Regions from separate parts of the Homo sapiens genome. Here all the other regions are linked to region 1. The links come from fine-mapping of genetic effects on gene expression. A gene starts in region 1. Each other region holds a variant in brackets. All regions are shown on one strand. Distances are from middle to middle.

Region 1 (4,204 bases):
CCCATTCTGGAGAGCCCCATGGCAAGATGAGCAAGTAACCGCCTGCGGCCACTGAGGGGCCGCCACCATCTGGGCCCCCTTGGCAGGGGCCTTGTGGAAGGGAAGCCTCTCAGGTGCCTTTCTTTGCTGGCGCCCTCTGAGCAGCGGGTCCTCCTGAGGCTCCCACCTCCTGGCCTGGGCCCGGCGGGAGGCAAGCTGGCCTCGTGGCCAGGGAGACTCGGGAGATCCTATCGGCCGGGCCTGGCAGGGCGAGGTCGGCTCCTTTCCTGGTGAATGGGGCTGTTGTGTGCTCCCTCCTGAGTCACAGCCCTCTTGTCTGGCAGGGTGGAAGGGAGAGGACTCACCGCGATGAGCTGGACGCAGTGGTCGGCGGAGGTGCCCCGGACGCAGAGGAGGGAGGGCTGGATGCCCGCTTCCCGGAAGGCCTCGCTCATGTTGCCGCACTTGTGCTGCTCTGGGTCCGAGGTGGCGCACCACCGCACCTCCATGCCACCGAGCACTGCGGGCAGGGGACCGTGAGGCCCGGCTCCCCCGCCCTGCCCAGCCCCGGCCCACCATGGAGGGTGGCTCCAGCAGTTCTGTGTGAGCCCATTCGCCTGGACAGCCAGTCCTCTAGGGCAGCCCTGCCCTCCCACAGGGAGGCACTAGGCGCAGAGACAGGGGAAGGGCTGGTATTCCTGTGCTCAGGGCCTCTCTGACCAGGAGCACGGCTGCTGGCAAATGGAATGGCTCAGAACCCGGCCCTTTATGGAGGAATGGGAGGGTCTACAGGTCGCTTCTCAGCTACCCCCACCTGGTGGGAGCACTGGCTAGGGAGTCTCGGCAGGCCCTGGAAGTGGAAGCTTCTTCCCCTCTCCAGGCCTCCCGAAGAGGGTGCTCGTGTAGGTTCCCTCACCCAGCAGTGTCCCTGGGCCTTCCTCATGAACTGGGACGGGAGAGTGAGGTGAGGGGGCTGTGGGTGGGCTGCCCTCCAGGAGCCCTGTCCCCTCGGGGAGTGTCTGCGATGATGCTGGCTGCAAAGCCACCCTCGGTGGGCACAGTGCCAGGCCCTGCCAAGGGAAGACGGCAGGCACAGAGGGGAGGCTGAGGACCCATCAGGGTAGGTTCAAGCCTCTCTGAGCCTGCTTCATCTTCTGAGAGAGCAGATAAAAACCCCACCTTCTGTGTTGAAAGTAAACCCCCTTGTAGAGAGCCTGAGACACCCACATCCTCAGTGGACTTCTGCTTATGCCTCAGGATCTGACCGGGTCAGAGTCCCCGAGAGCTCCCAGGCTAGGGGCCCAGAGGAAGGGGTGCTGGAGCCCCTTGGGGCCGATGACTTTCAGGCCTGAGCTCCTCTGCCATTCACCCTGCCCCAGCCAGCACTGCCAGAGGCCTGTGCAGGAGGGAGGGAAACGCATGACTCCGCCCGAAACCAGGTCACCCTCCCGTGGCAGCCCCACCAGCCCAAGGGCCGAGACTGAAGCTTCCGCCACAGCCCTCCCCTCCCCACTCCTGGCGGAGGCCTGGGAAGTCGAACTGCCCTCCCCTCCGCAGCGCTCCAAGCCCCCCACCACCCAGGCGGGAAACTGCAAAGTTCAGACGGGGCGGGGGTGGCGGTGGCTTCATCGTTTGCATTGATGAGTGCGTCGCCTGCGGCCACAGCGGTGCCACGAACTCCATCCCCTCGGCGGTCGCCGCCCGCGATCCCCGCGAGCCGCTCCCCGAGGTCCCGCCTCCCGTCCCACCATCCCGGGCCCTGACTCCCCGGGGCGCCGACGCGAGGGGACCCGGCCTCCGTCTCCACCTCCATCCCTGCATGTGCCAGAAACCCCCGGGCGGACTCCCGCGCCTGCCGGTCAGTCCCTCTGAATCTTCTCCCGCGGGGGCTCGGGAGAAAGAGCTGCTCCGAGCCCCCAAAGTCTTCCTGAGTTCCTGCGCCCGTCGGGAGGGGCCGCCCTCCGGGAGCTCCTCTCCACACCCCGAGGCCTCCCCACCACGCCTCAGCCCGCGCTTCTCCTTGGAGCGTCGGAAGCCTCGGGTGTTCGAGGCCGCCTCCTCCAAGAAGCCTTCCAGACTTCCCCGTCTGCGCTTCAGTGCTAGTTCCCTCCGCCGTCCTCACTCGACCCCGAGCCCCTGCCTCCCCCGTCTCACTGCCCCGGAGCCGCAGGCTCAGGCACATTTCCAGCCCCGGGACCTGCTCAGCCGGGCCGCGGCGCCCCGGGACCCCCGCCCGCCTTTGGCTCTCACAGCGGGGCCTCACCGGTGCGCAGAGCCAGGAGCAGCCACAGAGCCCCGCTCGGACCCCGCATGGCGCCGTCGGGGCTGGCTGGGGCCGGGCTGGGGCTGGGTCCGGGTCCGAGGAGGTCCGCAGCAGCCGGGCTTCCTCCCTGCTCCCCCTCGCGCTGGCCCGAGCTCCTTAAGTGCGGCCGCGAGTTCCCGGGCGGAATCCACGCCCCTGGGGCGCAGGTCACCTCCCGCCGACCCCGGACCCCGCCCCTGGGCGGCCCCGGCGCGCCCCCTGCTGGAGGCCTCCCGCTCGGGCCCGGGCGCCGCTGCTCGGGGCTCTCGCCTCAGCCTCCTACCCCGCGTTCCAGGGTATCCTCCCCTCCTCGCGCCCTAGAAAGACTCCAGATACCGTGTCTAACTGGAGAGAGAAAAGCTCAGACGTGGAAGGAAGGAGAGGTCAGAATCCCAGAGTCGGGGCTGGAGGGCAGCTGGAGGATGATCTCATTCACGCAGCAGCTCCCTCCCAGCACAGCTGCACAGAGGATCTGGGATACGGGGGAGCCCAGGCCGAGCGCCCTGGCGAGGGGGGAGCCGGGCAGGGGCATCTCGGCCACAGCTGCACAGAGGATCTGGGATACGGGGGAGCCCAGGCCGAGCGCCCTGGCGAGGGGGGAGCCGGGCAGGGGCATCTCGGCCACAGCTGCACAGAGGATCTGGGATACGGGGGAGCCCAGGCCGAGCGCCCTGGCGAGGGGGGAGCCGGGCAGGGGCATCTCGGCCACAGCTGCACAGAGGATCTGGGATACGGGGGAGCCCAGGCCGAGCGCCCTGGCGAGGGGGGAGCCGGGCAGGGGCATCTCGGCCTAGCCGACTGCCTCTCCTCGGGCCTAGAGACGGGAGGTGACTTGCCCGAGTCAGGCATCCAGTCAGTGGCAGAGCCAGCTGATTGGAAGGTGAGAAGAGGACCAGAGAGGAATTGGAGGAAGCGGAAAAGGAGAAACAGGCGGAGAAGGGGAGGAAGAGAGTGAAGAAGGTGAGGGAGGAAAGGGTGGGTTGACCGTATTTCTAGGACAGTGGTTCTCAGTGTGGTCCCTAGGCCAGCAACGTGAGCATCACCCTGGAACTTGCTGGAAATGCAAGTGCTCAGGCCCCACCTCCGACCCACTGGATCGACAGCTCTGGGGGCGGGGCCCACAATCTGTTTTTATTTCGGGGCACAGCAAATGTTGAGAACCACTGTCGCAGGCGGGCAAAAGCGGCACTCCCCATGTGGTTGGGGATGCGGGGAATGAACTGAAGACATTGTTAGTCACCTGCCTCCATTTAGGCCTCACCTTTATGTCATCAGCCCCTCTGAGACTCAGAAATGATGTCTCTCTCTGACATGGGTAAGTACAACAGTGAGAGAGAAGACATCCCTCTGAGTTTGTCTGTCCTTGAGCTTGCTCTGCGCCCTGGGGAAGGAAGGCCTCCCTCCTATGGGGCCATGAAGCTACTGCTTATCACACACTGGATCAGGGGAAGGAACATGGGCTGGGCTTCAGGAGACTCGAGCTCTACTTTTTAAAAACCAGCGACTTACAGACCCTGGGCGAGTTCGTCGCCCTCTCTGGGCTTGTTCCCCACATGTAAAAGGTAGGTCATGATGGCCGTGACGTGCCATACTTTCCGTCTCCTGTCTGCTCTGGAGGACTTGTGCTGTGGAAGCTGTTTCTCCATCCCCCCAGATGGATCCCTTCTTCCTAGTTTGCACAAAGGTGCCGAATGGACTAGCAGGCAGCCTTGCTAGAGGGGCTGATGGCTTGTCCTAAGAAGATGGAATAAATAGAAGAGTCCTTAACAAGCCTCGTTCTCCTGACCACGAGGATAGAAAGGCTCAGTTGGCACACTCCAGGAGCCACCAGATGACTGGCAGGATCTGTTTGATGACTAAGTCCTTCCTTTGGCAAAACTCCACGTGACGCTGATAGGGAGTGAGAACAACCATAACCTAAGA
Region 2 (4,204 bases), 37 kb before region 1:
AGAGAGACCCGAGGGAGCCACGAGCTTGATGATAATAGGGACAATCTCTTGTTTTACAGCTCTGTAAACCAAGGCACCAGGGCTCTGCAGAGATTGTGTGGCCAAACCCAGGCTGCCTGGCTGGTATCGGCACCTGCTGCTCTACAGACATGGGCTGTGAGCAGGGCTGAGGGGGATGACTTCTCCGGCCCGGCTGCGCCCCCCTGGGCACTGGAGCTCACGGGGACTAGGGCAGGGAGGCTGCGGGGATGGAAAGATCCCAGGCAGCTTCTGCCTCCTTGGAGCCACTATCAGTCTGCAGACCACCAGCCTGCCAAGGTCAAAGTTCACCACTCTCTCCCTGAAATGGATGTTATCCACAAGCTACCGGGCAAGGTCCAGTGTATCAGTGTGGCCTGATCATGTAGCGGCTCTGGTATCGGATTGCCTGGGCTTCAATCTGGCTTATTAGCCGAGTGATCTTGGGCAAGTTACCCGTTGTATTAGTCCCGTTCTCATGTTGCTAATAAAGACATACTTGAGACCGGGTAATTTATAAAGAAAATAGGTTTAATTGACTCACAGTTGTGCAGAGCTGTGGAAGCCTCAGGAAACTTACAGTCATGGCAGAAGGAGAAGAAAGAAGTGCTGAGCAAAAGGGGGGAAAGCTCCTTATAAAACCACCAGACTCAGGAGAACTCACCATCACGAGAACAGCAGCCCGGGGGGAACCGCCCTCATGATTCAATCACCTCCCACCGGGTCCCTCCCATGACTTGTGGGGATTATGGGAACTACAATTCAAGATGAGATTTGGGTGGGGACACAGCCAAACATATCACCTATCATCTCCAAGACTCAGTTTCTTCATCTGTAAACTGTGTCTTGAATACTGATACTTCATGATGTTGCTTTGAGGGTTAAACAATGAGATTTATAGGCAGGGCCTAGTGCACATAAGCCCACCCTCTAAGTGTCAGATATTCATATGTTTACTGGGATTAAGGTGTGGGCTTTGGTGCTCTGGAAGTGAATTCAGGGCCACCATTCACGGGCGACCTGATCTCAGGGCAGGTCACCACCCTCTCTGTAGTGGCCGCTGTGGGGCCCTGGCCAGTGCCCCTTCAGGGCAGAGGCTCTGGTTCCTGCAGCTTCCGGGAGTGTTGATGGTTTTGGTGGGGCCCAGCTGGGTTTCTCTCTGGGAGGTGCCCTCAGCTGAAGAGAACCACCTTGCTCAAGGTCGCCCCCATCTCCAAACCTGTGTCCATGAGGGCTGCCGTAGGGATAGAAAGGCCAGGCCCTCTTGCCTCAAGGCAAGATAACTCGGAAGGTTCACCAGCCGGGGCCTTCCTGGCTACTGCATGGCACTCACTCCTCTCTCTGCCCGTCCCGTGGCTTCTTACCCCCTGGCAGGCACTGTTTGTGAGAGCACTCCCTGAGAAGCCTGCACACAAATCTCCGTCCTCGAGTGTTTTCCTGGGAACCCAACCTGTGACAGTTGGTGCCAGGAAGGATCCTAGGAACAGACTCTAAAATGGGATCTTGGTGCTGCGTCCCCTGCCGGCCAGCTGGCAAGCAGGACCAGGCACATGGCTGTGGCACAGCTGTTCCCACTCGCCCGGCGGAGAGCGGGTGGGGAGCTGGTGGGAGGGATGTGCTGATGGAGGCTGGTCCCGCACACTGTGTCCTGTTACGCCACAGCCGGGAACCAGACCCTGGGTTCAAGTCCGGAGCTGTGATGGCTGCGTCCTCATCAGCAGGAAGCCCTGTCTCCTAAACGCTTTGGTTTCCTGAACTGTGAGGGGGTGAGGCGAGCTGATTGGCCAAGCTGATTCAC[C/T]GCGGTCCCTTCCAGCTCTAGCATCCTACACAAGCCCGAGAACTAGGGAGAGGGGTTTGGGCGGGATGGGAGCGCCCTGGAGCCAACAGTGTGAATAAGCGAAGGGTAGTGGATGGAGGAGGCTGGAGGAGATCTTCTGGGGCCCACGCTGCCCGAAGCGGCCTGTTTCATCCTGGGCTCAGGCCCTCCCCTTCCTCCCCCGAGCCCTCCCAGGTTCTGATGCTAGGGCACCTGTCGCTGACCCAGCTGGGCCTGGATTTTCGTCTACTTTCCTCAGGATGCCCTTGTCTCCTAGACTTCCCTTTCTTCCTCCTGCGTCTGCCCCAGCCTGGCAGGAGTGTGCACTCAGGACCATTAGCAGTTGGGGAAGCTGGAGAGGACGTTGCTCAGGCACACGTTTGTGGGCTGTGGAGCCCTGAGGAGCCTCTGGGCTGTGGGTGCCTCCCTGCATCCCCTCCCAGCCAGCCCACAGGCAGGCACTCAGGGAAGACGTGGAGGCTCTGAAGGGCTAAGCGACAGCTTGAAGGCCACACAGCTGGTCACAGGGCCACATCCCCCACGTCCACATCCAGGACTGAGTAGCCCCAAGCTGCAGCTCCTTCCGCAGCCTCCTCAGCCTCCTCATTGAGGCCACCTGCGTTGTTCAGAGTTGAGAGGTGACATTGGGACTGTGCTTGGGACAGTGGAAGTTTTACTTTTACTTTTTGTTGTTGTTGTTGTTTTTGAGATGGAGTCTTGCTAAGTCGCCCAGGCTGGAGTGCGGTGGCGCAATCTCGGCTCACTGCAACCTCTGCCTCCCGGGTTCAAGCGATTCTCCTGCCTCAGCCTCCTGAGTAGCTGGGATTATAGGTGCCCGCTACCGCACCCGGCTAGTTTTTGTATTCTTAGTAGAGACAGGGTTTTGCCATGTTGGCCAGGCTGGTCTTGAACTCCTGACCTCAGATGATCCACCTGCCTTGGCCTCCCAAAGTGCTGGGATTATAGGCGTGAGCCACTGTGCCCAGCTCTTTTACTTTGTATTTGCTTGCTTATTTATTCATTCCAAAATGATATTGATTAGATATTTAAAAGGCTTTAAAATTCAAAACAAAGAGTTAAAGAAACTAAAATAAAGTTTAAAGAAAGTAAAAATTACCCCTTAAATTCCACCAACTGGAGCTAGTCACCGTTAACAGTTTGGTGAACAGATTTCCAGACAGCTCTGTGTGTGTGAGTGTGCGTGTGAGTTTGTATGTGAGATTTTATGATAATGGGATTATATACTGTTTCATAACCTGCTCTTTTTACTCAACAATATGCCGTGGAACTCTTTCCACATCGGTAAATGTAGCTGCACCCTTCATTTAACAGCTGTAGACCATCATCCATTGCATTCCACTGGGAATGAAGGTATGAACCGTGTTTCATTTACCCAACCTAATACTGGGCATTTAGGCTGTTTCCAGTATGTCTCTTATTACAAAAAACTGAGGCACGGGCACGATGACACCTCTGTCTTGGCCATTTGTCCAGCTGCTGTCTTAGGTCCATTTCAGCAGGTTGGTCTTCAAGAACAATCCCTACAGCAAGCAGGGGTACTGTGCTGCCTCATTGCAATGGCAGATCCTCATTTTCAGGAAATCCAGGGCTCCTCCCCAAGGGGCCAGGGCAGCAGAATCACACACACGAGGAGACAGCTTTCTCCTCGGGAAGTTCTGTGTGAGAGGCAGAGAGGGGCTCTTGCCCCGAGTCCATATCTAAAGTCGTGACTAGTCGTCCCCATGACAGTCTGCTCGGCTTCCTGCTGGAGTCTGGGGGGCCTGAGGACGGCCTGCAGCTCTGCAGGGGGCTCGGCTTTTCCTCCAGGAGGCAAGTGGGCTAAAGAAACTCGGGCCGAAGGCGGCTGGGAGGCCGAGGGCATCCCGGTGGGAAGGAAGGCTTGGCCTAGTGCCGCTGCTTCTCTGCAGGCCCCAGCACAGGAACTGAGACGGTGGGATCGAAGAAGTCAAGCTCACAGTTGGAAGGGGAGAGACCCACAGCCAGATGACCATAGGGGTGACAATTCTCATGCACTTGGTCAGGGGTGGATAATAAGAAAGGGGGTTGGGAGGCGATGGGGGTAGTTTCTCCATTATCAGACTGTGGCCTATATATTGGCCGGGTGAGGCCTTTTAAAAAAACACAGACTTACTTTATATTTACGAGCAGTTTAAAGAGCAGGCCAGTTGGGCAGAAGGTACAGAGATTTTTCCATCTACCTCCCGCCCCTACACAGGCACAGCTCTCACTACATCCTTCAGAGTGGTGCGTGTGTCACAATTCACAGCCCTTCCTTTACACAGCGTTGTCACTCAGGGCCCACAGTTGTCCCTCCGTGGATTTGGATTCATGTATCCATAACGACATGTA
Region 3 (4,204 bases), 150 kb after region 1:
AAGCTTTCAATTCATTTGGGCAAATACCAAGGAGTACAACTGCTGGATCGTATGGTCAATTTTGTAATTTAAAAAAGCTTATATAACCATTGTAACCAACTACTTTTGGTTTAATCTTCATCTCTATGCTTTTCTAGAGTGTCCTATTGAACAAATGATATAAATTTTATTTTTATTTTTTATATTATTTTTTATTTATTTTTATTTATTGTACAAATGATAAAAATGTGTTGAAACAGTGTTTAAGAACCAATTTTTGAGTCAGTACATGTAGGTGCACTGTAAAAGTTTCCAGAAAAACAGAAACATAAAATAGATCCTACAATATTTTTTGTGTCAAAGGGGGAACAATTGATTTCCAAGTCTGAGTCATCATATTAATTTCGCAAAGTTAGTAGCCTTTTGAGTAGAAAATTAAGAAACAAATGTGTCTGCCAAGGGTCAGCATCTCACAGCCAGTACAACAGCGTTTCCATCCAAACTGTGAATGTTTGGGGAGTCAATACCAAAGGAGACTATTTCCACCAATTTCTCTGGAAAATAACCTATCAATTAGAGTCAGTATTTTCAAAGCAGTTTAAGAAGATTGTCTACCTACCCTATACGTAGTCTACTTTTTAGTACAAAAGCACTACACTAATGAATATGAACAATTCCATTCCTTGGAGATGAAGAAAAAATATTTTATCAAAACACAATTATCATTACACATGAGACAAAATGAATGTGGTATGTACCGATAACACGGTTAGGTCAATCAATCTAGGATGGTCCAAGATGGAGATGTCTTGGTGTGAATTTCAGACCTGTTGCCTGGTGGGAATAGTCAGAAAATAAATGGTTATAACAGAGTGACCCCATATGCCTCTATTTACTTGGGAAGTCTGTATTTATGCCTGTTGTCTCACTTTAATTATTAATGATTCCCTCTTTTCATTAAAGTATCCTAGTTTGGTCTGAGTTATATAGTTATCCCAGTTTTGAGGAAATTGAATTCTCTTCTCTCCCTACCTCATTTCCTTGTGTGTATTTCTTCTCAGAGGGCAAGTAAGAATCATCAGTTAGAGAACTATTACAATGCTAAATAAAGTGTGATGCGCGCTTCACAGAAAGTCTAAGGGAAAAGACAGACAAACACACCTGCTTGGGCCCTCCTTAGCACAAGTTCGTATGTCCCTGTCTCTTCACTCATTCAACAAATATTTTCTGGTTATCTACAGTGTGCCAGCCACTGTCACAGAAACTGAGGATACAACAATAAACATAACAGAAAAATCCCACCCACATGGAGCTGACAGTCAAGTAAAAAGACAGTAAAAAATGTATAATAAAGAATCAGGTAAGAAGACAGAGTAATGTCTGGAGTGAAGGGGTGCTACCTTAGAGGAAGCAAAAAATATTAACGAGAGAAGTTAGATGTCTACTGCTGTAGTTCAGGCAACATATTATTGAATCAGTAGTTGCAGAAGTGTTGAAAAGTGGCCAAATCATAAATATATCTTGAATAAAAAGCCAACAGGATTTGGCATCAGACTGGATACGGAGCAAAGAAAAAAGGAATAAAAGATAATTTTAAGGGTTTTTGTCTTCAGCATCTTAGTGAATGGCATACTGAATAAAGAAGATTGAGACCAATAAAACTAGAAATTCTCTTTTTAATATGTTACCTTTCAGATGCTTAACCGAAGTGGAGATACTGAGTAGAAAGTTAGATATAAAAGTCTAATGTACAGGGATTAACTCTGGAATAAAGAGAAATACTGATGGTATTTAAGGGCATAGGACTAGATGCGATCACCTGAAATGTGAGTATAAAAAGAGAGTTCAAAGACTGAGCCCTGAGACATTTGAACATTTAGCAGTAGGAAAAAGGAGGATACTATAAAGGAAAATGAGGCTGGTAGAATATTAAAAGAGCAGTACTATCCACGAGTCAAAGGAGAAAAAAGAATTTAGAGGAGGGAGTAATCAATTGTGTTAACAGTTGTTGTAGGGTCAAGTAAAATGAACACTGAGAACTGGCCACTGGATTTGATAATCTACACTCACACAACGAGGGTTTTTTGGATGGTTGTTTTAATGAAAGATATTATAGCAGGTGTACATCCTGATAGGACTTATAGAGGCAAGTCTAGGGGCAGTACAGAGGCAAGACAGATGATGCAGTGAAGAGAGAAAGGGATTTCAGAAGTTCTTGAACAACCAAAGGGACTACGATCTAGTACAGAAGTGAATATGGGTAAGCTTTAGGCACACAGTTCATTTATTTTAGCAGGCTGGAACACAAAGCAAGATTATTTATTTGAGAATAAGACCAGGAATCAGGTATTGGAAGTTTAACGTGCAGTCTGCGAGTTGGTATAGAGAAGGCAGAGCTGCAATCCGGATGGTCTGGACTTTCTGTGGTGACAGGCTAAAAGGGATTTAGGATCTAAAAATAGTCCTCATGATATGTTTGGGGGA[T/C]GCTTAGGGGAGCTTGGTACCAAGTGGATAATCACTTAAATTTAGTCATCTACACGTGACTGGTTTTCACCAATTTGTAGAAGGGAGTGCTAGGAGGGGAGGAAAGGTCAAAAAACTGGTAGTCTCATCAAGAATTTCAAAGGCTCTTTGGGGCACCTCCCTTAAATCCTGTAATTAAAGGTGTTGAGATCTCTGGTTCTTAAAAAAAGTGGATGGCTTGTACTTACAAATTAACTTAATCAGTCAACAATATTTACTGAATGTTTGAATGTACTGCGCTATCCTAGGTGCAATAATTCCTAATAATCTATATCTGAATTTGTTCATATACTATTAGAGTTAAATGATATAAAAATAAGCTAACAGGGGCACCTAACTCTAATGTAGCACTTACTCTGTGTCAGATGCTGTCCTAAGTACTTTATTAATATATACATTAAATTATTTGGTAGAAGTGACTCAATGACACTGATACTGTTATTCTCTCTATTGGACAATATATCCAATGCATAGCTCTAAAAATTAAATCCTCTATAACTCAGAAGGCATCTGTTTCAGACAAACAATATTTTTTAAAGTGTACAAATTAGCCTAAATATTTTTCCACACAGGCACTTGAACAATGTTTTCCTATATTTTTGACTTAGGACAGGGTTTTTCCTCTAAGCAGATTATTCAACTCAGCTAATATTTACTCTTTAAGAAAACTTTATTATTCTATTTCAATTCTGACAAGTTTTCATGTCTGTTCCATATTCCTAAGAATACAGCTTTGCTGCTCTCAGCTTAATTTGGCATGTTGTGTTTTTTTTTTGGGGGGGGGGGGGCTTTTTGAGTATTTATAGTGCTCTATATGTTGAGATTTTCAAGTAGTCCAAAATGTATGAATAGCTGCTATACACACATTCAAAATGACTGAACACTTCACAGTTATTTAAAGTTCATATGATTACTACTGACATTAATAAACGTCGATATCACTAAGTAAATAAAACTTTTCACCTAGGCGTTAATCAAGTAAAGTCTAGCAGCACTGTGCTGGAGTTCTATAAAACCCTGCTGAATATAAAAACTGGTCCCAGATTGGAACAGGACTGTGTATGCTAAGTAGGACGGGGCCGATTATTGAGTGACCCTCAACACAAGAATAGGAGGGACGCTGAGGGTGCGGAACCAAGGAGGGCTTCGCAATGCATAGAGAACTTTTTCTATACTAATCGTTTGAAATTAAGGACAAAAACACTATGAAGCCTCAAACTGAAAAAGTTTCACCAATGTAATTCATAAGAAACTCATTTTTATTTAACATTAAAAAATAAAACAACCTCTCAAAAAACCCACAATGTAAAATGAGATACAATGAAATGATAAAACTGAGAGACAGTGTGTAAGCTATTTGGTTATCACTACTGAGTGGGGACTGAAAGGGGTGAGGAAATCAGGGGAATCGGGGCAGTGTGACTGGAGGATAGTATGAAGAATGGAGGGGAAGAAAAGGCAGTGGAAAAGGAGATGGGCTGCTGTGAAAAACCAAAGACACTTGTGAGGGAAGAGAGAAGATCCAATCAATACAGGTACTGAAGAGGTATTAGATTAGGTGTCATATTTTGGAAGGCCAGGAGATAACATTTGAGGTGAATGGAATAAAAATTAATTAATTCTATAAGCATTTATTAACACCAACTACATGCCAAACCCTAACTGAGAAGCTAGGTGTCTTGCAAAAGTTTATAACCACTCA

Alleles and levels. Alleles are on the strand shown, and positions count from the first base shown. SD is a standard deviation of normalised expression in the study named. Not every link is listed here.
With allele C in place of T in region 3, the expression in monocytes after LPS of the gene that starts at base 2,406 in region 1 is lower (moderate effect, 0.71 SD a copy in Quach 2016).

The links. PIP is the estimated chance that this variant, and not a neighbour inherited with it, causes the effect. A credible set is the group of variants that fine-mapping cannot tell apart.
Region 2: its variant is the best candidate, but not a certain one, in a credible set for the expression of MELTF in whole blood (TOPMed, PIP 0.66).
Region 3: its variant is the best candidate, but not a certain one, in a credible set for the expression of MELTF in monocytes after LPS (Quach 2016, PIP 0.81).

The regions. Positions count from the first base shown.
Region 1 is chr3:197,027,412-197,031,615 of GRCh38, forward strand. It overlaps MELTF (melanotransferrin), which reads right to left and starts at 2,406. Exons shown (of 16, transcript NM_005929.6): 1 at 2,243-2,406; 2 at 345-499. The coding sequence starts at 2,291. RefSeq lists silencers at 1,669-1,848, 2,039-2,088, 2,139-2,628 and enhancers at 2,162-2,798, 2,799-3,435, 3,823-4,204, 4,127-4,204.
Region 2 is chr3:196,990,584-196,994,787 of GRCh38, forward strand. It overlaps the pseudogene RPSAP30. Among named protein-coding and RNA genes, the nearest start is that of MELTF-AS1, 10 kb to the right of the region's middle. RefSeq lists a silencer at 215-509. The variant C/T (reference allele first, on the strand shown) is at 1,817.
Region 3 is chr3:197,176,791-197,180,994 of GRCh38, forward strand. The region is part of intron 5 of DLG1 (discs large MAGUK scaffold protein 1); the gene reads right to left. Among named protein-coding and RNA genes, the nearest start is that of MIR4797, 120 kb to the right of the region's middle. The variant T/C (reference allele first, on the strand shown) is at 2,464.